Regions from separate parts of the Homo sapiens genome. Here region 2 is linked to region 1. Evidence: fine-mapped expression QTL. A gene starts in region 1. The other region holds a variant in brackets. All regions are shown on one strand. Distances are between the middles of the regions. Region 1 holds the start of CETN2 (centrin 2). Region 2 overlaps NSDHL (NAD(P) dependent 3-beta-hydroxysteroid dehydrogenase NSDHL).

Evidence for each region. PIP is the estimated chance that this variant, and not a neighbour inherited with it, causes the effect.
Region 2: its variant is the best candidate, but not a certain one, in a credible set for the expression of CETN2 in blood mononuclear cells (TOPMed, PIP 0.50).

Annotation. Positions count from the first base shown.
Region 1 is chrX:152,828,836-152,833,835 of GRCh38, reverse strand. CETN2 (centrin 2) reads left to right here and starts at 3,079. Exons shown (of 5, transcript NM_004344.3): 1 at 3,079-3,128; 2 at 4,076-4,234; 3 at 4,559-4,687. The coding sequence starts at 3,126. NSDHL (NAD(P) dependent 3-beta-hydroxysteroid dehydrogenase NSDHL) reads right to left here and starts at 2,773. Exons shown (of 8, transcript NM_015922.3): 1 at 2,719-2,773. RefSeq lists a silencer at 2,840-3,179.
Region 2 is chrX:152,859,969-152,865,490 of GRCh38, reverse strand. NSDHL (NAD(P) dependent 3-beta-hydroxysteroid dehydrogenase NSDHL) reads right to left here. Exons shown (of 8, transcript NM_015922.3): 5 at 2,767-2,895. Among named protein-coding and RNA genes, the nearest start is that of NSDHL, 32 kb to the right of the region's middle. The variant G/A (reference allele first, on the strand shown) is at 3,161.

The sequences.
Region 1 (5,000 bases):
TTCAAGGAGCCCGCCATCTAGGGTGGGAGACAGGAGCAAGCAAAGAGTCACAGAAGTGCGTTTCCACTCTGATGAGGGCAAGCCCAGAGCACCAATGCAGGCTGCTGGCTCAGGGAAGCCTGCCCCAACTAGGAGATCCCTAAGCTGACTTCAAAAGGCCCCAGAAGAGTGAGTAAAACAGAGCGCATGGTGTCCTGAAAGACATTCCATGGCCAGGGTGGGAAGGACAAAGTGATGGCACAGAGCCAGCATGTTCTTATAACAGTGACAAGCTGTGTCACAGCAAGTGTGAAGCAAGATCGGGAGCAAAGTTGAGAACATGTGGGGGCTGTGTGCCAAGCTAGGGAGTTACAAGGGGGGAAAGATGGTGGAGCCCCTAGAAGTTGGAAGCAGGAGTGAGTGTTGCGACTGGAAAGATCACCTTGGCTGCAGTGCAGGGAAGAGATTTTGGACAAGTCTAAGGCTCCAGGCATGGTGGGCGGGGGGGAATGACAAGAGCAAATCAGAGACAAGAACTACATTTGACTCTTGAACAATGTGGGGGTTAGGGGCACGGAGCCCCGAAGTCAAAAATCCACATATAACTTTTGACTCACCTAAAACTTCACTAATATAGCTTACTGTTGGCTGGAAGCCTTACCAATAATGTAAACAGTTGATGAACAAATATTTTGTACATTACATGTATTACATACTGTGTCCCAGCAATAAATTAAGCTAGAGAAAAGAAAATGTTACTATGAAATCATAAGGAAGAGAAAATATATTTACTATTCACTGAGTGAAAGTGGATCATCATGGTCTCCATCCTCACGGTCTTCCTGATGAGTATGCTGAGAAGGAAGATGAGGAGGAGCTGATCCTGCTGCTCAGCGGTGGGAGAGATGAGAAAAAAATCTGCCTGTAAATGGACTCACAAGGTTCAAACCCATGTTGTTCAGGGGTCAACTGTAATACTGCCTGAAGACCTGCTCAACATCAGGCCACTTTACATATAAGTAGTTCATCCCATTGAGATGCAAAAGTATCCCATCAGGTAGACAGTACTGGTCTCACTCAACAAATGAGAAACAGGCTCAGAGAGGTTAAGCGACTTGCCCAAGGTCACACAGCCTGCACACAGCCTGCGCAGAACTTGTGTTTTTCCCTTGTACTCTGTCAGGCTTCCGATCTGCAGGTTGACGGACTGGGAAGCAAGGTATGGAGGGACATTAAGCTAGAAGGGTTACCAGGGGCAAAACTGGGCAGAGGGATCACAGGCCAGGCTAAGGAGCCCTTTACGGTTCAGGCTCTGAAGGTTTAAGAGCAGGGAGATGCCCTGACCAGGGCCGTTCACTACGAAGATTAACCTGGTAGAGCAGGGAGGACTAGCTAGGTGAGAGCTGGGAAACAGGGGAGCTACTCATCAGTTGTCTAATATGTGCCCCTCTCTGTTCTAGGTCCTGGAGTACCAGTAGTGAATACAACAAAGATGCCTGCCCTCAGACAGCCTGCCTTCTAGTGGAGGGACAACAAAGAGCAAAACAAACAAGCAAAATATACAGTAGGTCAGAAGGGGATAAGAACTGTTGGAAAAAAAAGTAGAGCAAGGTGAGTGGCTTGTTTGTACTGGGGGCTGCAATACTTAAATAGGGTGCCTAAGAGGAGGCAGGCGGAGAGGACAACTGAGACAAAGATGAGAGGCAGGAGTGTGGCTGGCACATGAGGTTCAACCACAAAGCCAGTGTTCTGGGGCTGGAGTGAGCCAGACGAGAGAAGAGTTGTGGAGCGATGGAAGGGGACACGTCGTGCCAAGCTTTGGAGATCACAGTGAGAACTCTGGCTCGTACTACTTGGGGGGATGATGATGACCCAAAAGTCAGGAATCTGTTCACTGCTGAAGAGAGAAGAGGGCAAAGGGCAGCAGCTCCATTTAAAAGGTTCTAATAAGCCTCGGGCCTTTCTCTGTCTGAGAAACTTACTCTCTGCCCTCTGTCTCCCTAGATTACTGCCCCTATGCCTGGAGGAAAAACAGGTGAAGGCTAAAAGCCACGGGGATAGCTAAAGAGGGCAAACTGGACCTCCAGCTCCACTTCTGCAGGTCTATGTCAGTCCACAGCCCTTGCACACGCTCCCTTTTAATTCTCCAAGCATACCTCTCACTTCCAAAACTCCTGTGACTCTGCTGATGAGGGCGTCTCGGCCTGGAATGCTCCTCCTTATCTGCATTGTGTGGGTGTCAAAAAGAGTATATTTTGATGACCTCTCCCCGCCCCTCATGCTCGCTCACATCCCCCTCACTCCTTTCAAAGTCCGTTCCCAAAGGCCCCAGTTCACCGTCCTGGGCTGCTTTTAGCCAGGTAAGATCTAAAGTGATCCTCTCTTGGAACCTGGTCTGGGGCCTATACATCTGGGTCAGTCTAGGGGTGCTCTCGAAGGGCCACCCTCAAAGAGCGAGCCTCGGCTGGATTCAGTTCCTAGGTCCCAGCCGTCCGACCTCTGCGACAACACTCAGCACACCCCTTCCCCTCTCCGGGTCTCAGTTGCCCCGTGAGTACAGTCCCTGCTCCAACACGCAAGGTAATCGTTTCTGGCTGCTCTGATGCACTCGGTCCCTAAACTCAGCCTTAGGTCAACCCAGAAAGCACCCGACCCGGGCGACCCCGTAGCTCCCCACCCTCCCGCACTGCCCAGTCGCTGACACAGGGTGACCTCCAATGGCAAGGCCACGACTCTTACCCGTCCGTAGGCGCCCCCCTGTCTGGCCTCAGCTCGCAAGCAGGCTGCACCCACTGAACTCCAGGCCCGGACCGCCACCCTTTACTCCCCTCCCGCGTGAGCCGAGAATCAGCCGAGCTTCCTCCACCAAGAGGATTGGCCCAGCTCGGCGACGACTCAGCCAATTGGCGCTCACGGCGTGATCTTGCCCAATAAAGACGGGGCTCTGTCGCCAGCGTGCCCCTCCCCGCGCTGGGCCGGGGCTTTGCCAGGTTAGTCCCACCCTCTTCGGCCCTGCACCAATAGGGAGAGGCGGCGACGAGCGGACGGCCAATGGGGAGCGGGGCTGCGCGCGCGGGGCGGTGGGAACGGCGCCGAGTCAGTGTACACGTCGGTTGCCTAACAACCGGCAGCGGACTCCTTTGGCTATGGTGAGTGCTGCCGCTCTGTCGCGCCCCACGCCCAGCGGCTGAGCCCTTCCCAGGCCCCAGCTCGGCCACGCCGCCTCTCCTGCGCCTTTCTCGGCTTTAGCGCACCAGTCTTTCCTTTGAGCTCTTTCCCGGGAGAGTAGGGTACAGACGCTAACCAACCTACTGGGCCTGCGCTTCGCTGCTGCCTCCTCTTCACCCACAACAGGCCCACACCCGCCCCTCGGGCTCCCCTTGCATTCCCTGATCCCCTCGGTGAACCTCCCTGGGCAAAAAAGACTCGAATCCCTCACAGGCCCCTGACTCTCTCAGACCTTGGCCCCCTGGCCTCCTCATTCTGCCAAAATTTCCACACACAGCTGGGAAAAGGTGTATCGTGTTCTGTTACAATGTTTTTTACAATTTAAATACAGGGGCATTCAGGGGATGCTTTAGCTTCTTGGAGAAGGCACGAAGGTGCCAGATGGATTGAGTTTTATTACTCGGTACTGACACAATATACATCTTAACAACTTACTAATATTTGGCCAAATCTAGAAGTAATTGGGAAGTCGGAGTACTTACTGGGAAGGGGAGTACTGGGAGTGGGCATCGTAAGACTGTTTTCAGAACCAGGATCCCCACGTTCGGGAAGAGCTGATTATCTCTAGTTATTCACAGTCATCTTCTTGACTGGCTCTCTTTTGGGATGATTTTCAGTAAGAGGTGTCCTTACTGAACAAGTGATCTCCCTGCTTCTAGAAACAACAGTAAAGAAAAGGGAGGGGTAGAAGTTCATGGAAAGATTCATTGTTCTTGCCAGTAAACCCTGTTATCTTTCTTTTTAAGCAAAGCTTTGGAATTGGTTATATAAATGACTTTAAAAATACATATGGGTGTCTGTAACTATGTTATGTAAATATGGACTGTATGATATATTATTGTGCTTGTGTATTGCATAACATATAAAGGCCTCCAACTTTAAGAAGGCAAACATGGCATCAAGTTCTCAGCGAAAAAGAATGAGCCCTAAGCCTGAGCTTACTGAAGAGCAAAAGCAGGAGATCCGGGAAGCTTTTGATCTTTTCGATGCGGATGGAACTGGCACCATAGATGTTAAAGAACTGAAGGCAAGCTCTGTGCATTCCTGCCGTACTGCCCTTCCTTTCCTCTGCCTCTTCCTTGTCATCTCCCTATCACCTCTCTACCCCTTTTGCCCTCTTCTCCCTGCAGTAAGTAACAGGGGAGGTTGTACTGTGCTGTTTTCCTGTCTTTACTTACTTTGAGTATTATTCAATAAAATTGATTGCAAATATCAATTAGATCAATGTCATAGTGTTCCCCAATCATATTAACATGACCACATCAGATGCTGGCTTAATGCTCTCAACACTGTTATTTTTGCTCCTGCTACTTTAGATGTGCTTATTGAGACGATCCTGTTTTCTTTATAGGTGGCAATGAGGGCCCTGGGCTTTGAACCCAAGAAAGAAGAAATTAAGAAAATGATAAGTGAAATTGATAAGGAAGGGACAGGAAAAATGAACTTTGGTGACTTTTTAACTGTGATGACCCAGAAAATGGTAAGTAGCTAAGACAATTATCATGGTATGGAGCCCCAGTCATCTGCAGAGGTCCATGGCGTCTTCCTGTTAAAACAGTCATGTGACCACAGAGCAGTCCAGGTAGCAACTGCATCAGGAGGCCTGCCCTCCCATCATGTTACTTTGGGCTCCCAAAACAAGCCCTTGTGCTTCTTTCTCAAGACTTCCAAGCAGATACCTCTTCCCACAGAATTCCAAATCAGTTAGGAAATAGATATGGGATAGGGAGAGATATAGCGATAGGTAGCAAACGTCACCTTGGATGGAGTGCCTGGCTTGCCTGGTGTTTCTT
Region 2 (5,522 bases), 31 kb before region 1:
CCTCGGCAGCAGTTTGTGGAAAACGTCCAAAGGTTCTGGCAAACAAGTTAGCCGTGAGCCTCCAGTGACTTGAACTGCATGTGCCGCCCACGTTTCCACCAGGCCGGGTCTGTTCCAGGCAATTCTGAGTATCACCTCCGAGGGGAGGGCTCTGAGAAACCCAAGTGGGCCCAGAAGAGGGTCAGAGAAGGTGAAGGGTCTGAAGACCATGCCTGGGGAGAAACAGGCCAGCAGCTGGGGGGCAAAGGAGGCCGAGACATGTAAAGTCCTCAGAGCAGTGCCTGGTCCAGAGCCAGTGCTCCTGTTGCCACCGCAAGGAAAGGGTGACTTCTGTGTGACTTCATGGACAAACTAGAACTCAAGAGTCTAAAGCACAGTGAAATGGGTTTCGCCTCAAAAGTAACAAAACTTTCCAAAGGATTTGTTTTATCGTGGGTAAAAGTGGTGATCATAAAGGTACCTACCCTGACGGGGCTGCATGCGAATTACACGAGATGGCCCATGTGAGTTGCTTCAGTGCGTGTCTGTATGCTTGGTAAGTACGGTTCCTGCTGTCATGTCACCTCGGGTTTCTTCTACTCTATGGTAGCAAAGTGCTGGTCTATGTTTTGGCCCCAGTGATCTTAAGCAACTCAACAATGGAAAAGCTGCCTCTCAACAGATTCCCAGAGCTGGCCCTCCTCTTCCCGCCAGGACTCTGGTCCCCACAGCGATGGAGGAAATGACTAAATAAACCCTCAAATGGCTTCCACCAAGGCTCATCTCTACTACTAAAGGGAAGAGAGGTGAAGGAGTCCTAGCTCCCCATCACATTTGGTTTATGATCAGTAGGAAGGTTATAAAGCCAACAGTGGATGTCAACCTCGGCTGAAAGGAGGCTTCCGGTGAGTTACTGCTGGAGTCATCTGCAGGCTTTGCTTATTTCCAGTTGAGAACCCAAAAGTTGATATAAGCGAGACACTGATGGTCTGGGCCAAGGCCATCATTTGAAGCTCCTGAGCCTAGATGGGCTCAGCTCTGGTGGCAATCAGTATCAGGCATATTGGGTTGAGAATACACAGGGTCTCCATGGTGACTGAACTGCCTGCAAGGCGCAGGGAGGCTTTAGTACTCCTTGGGCCAAGTTCGAGCACATGAGTGCTCCAAGGAGCAAGACAGCATAGTCTGGAGCCAGGACTGTGGCTTGCCAAAGTTCAAGCCTCCACCCCTGGTCTGGGTGGCCCTTGTGTCTCCCTGTGGACCAGTTCTGCCAGGACTTTCTGAGCTGAAGCAACAGCAGACAGGCTGGGCATGGTGGCTCACGCCTGTAATCCCAGCACTTTGAGAGGCCAAGGCGGGCAGATCATGAGGTCAGGAGTTCGAGACCATCCGACCAACACGGTGAAACCCCGTCTCTACTAAAAATACAAAAATTAGCCGGGCATGGTGGCACGCGCCTGTAATCCCAGCTACTCAGGAGGCTGAGGCAGGAGAATCGCTTGAACCTGGGAGGTGGAGGTTGCAGTGAGCCGAGATCGTGCCACTGCACTCCAGCCTGGGCAACAGAGTGAGAATCCATCTCAAAAAAGAAAAAAAAAAAAAATACGGCAAACAGCCAGGAGGCAGCTGGCTCTCAGGTAGCCAGGTCAGTGTTCAGCTCCAGTACAGCATGTACCGGCTTTGCGAGAAAACCTCAGTGGGTGTGATACACTGCACACACCTGGGAGGGGTATACTCACAGCTACCCAGCTAAGACGAGCTATCCCAGGCTCAGGAGCACTCCTGGCCTGCAGCTTAGGATGGCCTCAGGGTGACAATCCCCATCTGCAGCTAGCAGTTGTCAGGGGCCCCACAGCCCCAGCAGCCTGAAGGCTTGGTAGCGACCGTGGCTGAATCCAACCATACTAAAATCAGGTGCCCTTTGATGAAGCTGTTTTGCCAAGTGGAAAAGTACTTTTTCCTTAAAATAAAGCAAGATCCTTCCGTTGTTTGTTTTTCTAAGTAAGGGAGGGGGTGAGAGTGCCACTAGGAAGGTGCCTCCAGCCTGATTCCTGTCTGCACGCTTGCAACTGCTGTAAATTCCCATAGCAGGCGAGGAAGCTCCCATGGCATTGAGGGTGGGCTGTAAGCTCTGTAGACAGACTGCCTGGGGTCAGCCACCTCCTAGCTGCACAGTTTTAGAAAGGTTCTGAGCCTCTCTGTGCATCTGTGCACCACAGTCTTCATCTATAATCTGGTGATGATGCGATAATTGTGACCTTTAAACAAGGAAAATACTCCTGGAAAACACTCAGAACAGTGTCTGGCCACATAAAGCTGTTCTCATAGTAACTTTTTTTTTTTTGGGAGACAGCGTCTCTCTCTCTCTATCCCCCAGGCTGGAGTGCAATGGCACAATCTCGGCTCACTGCAACCTCCGCCTCCCAGGTTCAAGCAATTCTCATACCTCAGCCTCCCAAGTGGCTAGGATTACAGGCGCCTGCCACCATGCTGGGCTAATTTTTGTATTTTTAGTAGAGATGGGGTTTCGCCATGTTGGCCAGGCTGGTCTCGAACTCCTGACCTCAGGTGATCCACCCACCTCGGCCTCCCAAAGTGCTGGGATTATAAGCGTGAGCCACCGTGCCCGGCCTCTCACAGTATTTTTAAATTTAATTTCACCCACAAATTTTACATCTCAAATCAGGTACGTAGGCCTCAGAATACAAACTTCATAAGTTCATAAACATTTTTCTTAGGATTCTAAACCCTTCAGTCTGCTCACTCAACCAGTTCCAAGGTACATACCCTCTCCTGTAAGATCTTAGTCTCTGTGTAGTAGTCAATGGGTTTCATGGCATAGGGAAGGTCTTCAGTTCCATTCTTGATATCGACGCCCTCAAAGATGACACTGGCACTGCTGGTTAAAATGAGTTTCTGACAGAGGAAGGTCAGAAAAAATAAAAGTCACAAATTATCACAATTCAAACAGTGCATGATCCTGTATGAAAGAGAATCAGGGGCATCCCTTTGTTGCCCTCGCATTCGAGGCACTGAAGAAATTATTTGCTGCAATGCCTTTGCTTTTCATGCCTTCTTAAAATAATCCAAAGATCACCATCTTTTGCAGCTATGTGGATTCCAGACACACTATGTATTACATTCTAACCAAGAATCAAGAGATCTTGGTTTCAAAACAAGG[G/A]ATAACACATTTTTTCTATCCCATCACACCTGAGAGATAGAATAGACTTGCATTCATGGTATCTCACTATGACAGCGATTCTCTGTTGTAAGTGAAGGGCAGCCCGCAAACTTCTAGGAAGATGTCTGAAAAAGATCACTGGCTATTCTGATAGTGACCTGGCCATGTGAACACACATAGGAATACACACACCACACGACCTCTTAAGAAATGCTATTCTAAAGGAAGATATTCTCTTATGAGGGTCCCCAGCGTCCAGCCTGCTGGTTAAGAGAAGCTCATCCAACACTGAACACCATTAGCATGAATCATATCGTTCCCATTCTTATTCAACATTGTATGAGAAGCTCTAGCCAGAGTGGTAGGGTAAGATAAACACGAATTTATAATGATTTGAAAAGAAACTGAACTTCCATCGCTTACAGATGAGAGAAAAATCTACACAGAAAACACAGGCAAATATGTAGAAAATATTAGCGTTTGGCAAAGTTGCTGAATTAAAAATCAATATACAAAAATTAACTCGTCTTATATATTAGCAATAACTGAAAATGTAATAGAAAGTTATTAAATAACAAAAAACGAAGTACATACAAATAAATTTAACGAGATATGCAAAATCTTTACGAAGTAAAGTATAAAACTCTATTGATGACATTAAAGAGCGAGATAAACAGAAACATATCCCATATTTATGGACAGGAACACTCAATATGGGAAAGATGTCAATTCTCTCCAAAATTACCTACAAGTTCAACACAATTACAACAGCAGTCTCAGCTGGCTTTAGCAAGGAACTGGTTAAGCCAAACATATGTAGAAGAACAAAGGGCTCAGAATAGCCAAGTGAAGTTTGAAGAAATTGGTTGGGGGCGTGATTTATCTACGGTACACTGAGACTTATCCTAAAAAGGCAGAGCTTCTCTGCATGGGCAGACAGGGAGGTCAATGGGGCAGAGGGGAGAGCCTGGGAACAGGCCCATGTAAGACACAAACACCTAAGACATGCTGCAGATGGTGTGCAGCGATGCAGAAAGGATGGATTATGCAATAAATGGCACTGAACTGGTTATACACATGGAAGAAAGTTAGATCTCTATCTCACACCATAAGCAAACATAAATTCCTGGTGGATTAAAGACTGAAATGTGGAAAGCAACACTTAAAACCTTTGAGGAAAAAAAGTACATTAAATAATCTTTTGATCTCAGTGTTGGAAAATGTTCCTTCAATACAACACAGCAATCACTTTCTGCACTCTTACCCACTAAGCCACTCTGCCCCTTCAGTAAATAAACCAGAGTTACATATGCCAAGATGAATAAAGAAAAACATAACACTGGGGAAAAAAGCAAGTTGCAGGAGGATCTGTTCAATAAGATATCATTGTATAAAATCTTATAACATGCAATCCAATACTTTATATTGCTTACACATGGAGCAAATGGAAATAAACCCAAATTCAGAATTGCTATCCATGGCTACAAGAAGAGAGCAATGGCATCGAGGATGGGCACACATTACACATGCCAGTAATGTTGTTTCTTAAATGCTGTGGTGAGTGGAGAGGTGCTGTTTTATTCTCAAATCTTGTTGTTTTTTTAATTTTTTTTTTAAGAGACAAGGTCTTGCTCTGTTGCCTAGGCTGGGGTGTAGTGTTGGGATCACAGCTCACTGCAGCCTGAAAATCCTGGGCTCAAGCGATCCTCCTGCCTCAGCGTCCCGAAACAGTTGAGGCTACAGGTGCATACCACCACACCTGGCTTTTAAAAATTCGTGTAGAGGTGGGGTATTGCTATGTTGCTCAGGCTGGTCTTGAACTCCTTGGCTCAAGGGATCTTCCTGCCTTGGCCTCCCAAAGCGCTGGGATTACATGTGTGAGCCGCCACACCTGGGGCACAAATCTTTGTTGTATGCCCCCAACCTTCCATTTAACAAAGAGCAGCAGGGCCCTTCCCAGGGCTCCAGTTACATCAGCATGGCTGAGTGCAGAGTCTGGGACTTGGAGAATCTGCTTTGACCCCACCTCTCCCATTTACTAGCAAAGAGACATCGTTTAGCCCCTGGTCACCCAACGAGGAGCTAATTAGGTGAAAACTTCAGCAGGGCAAAGCATCTTGTCAACTGCTAGGGGTCAGTTATAAGTGATCTTTTCCAGGGCCCAAGCCCAGAAGAGCTCCAACCCTGCTGGGCCGGCTGAGGATGCTGCGGACCAGCCAACAGTGCCAGGACAGGTTGTTGGGAGAGGAACCCCCTGGCTTGCTTCAAGTTTTTCTCTTAATTTATGCAGTACCTGTGGCATGCATCCCTGTGAGGGTCAGGATACTGAGCTGACAGGGAGCCGTTTTAGCCAGTGGCTGGA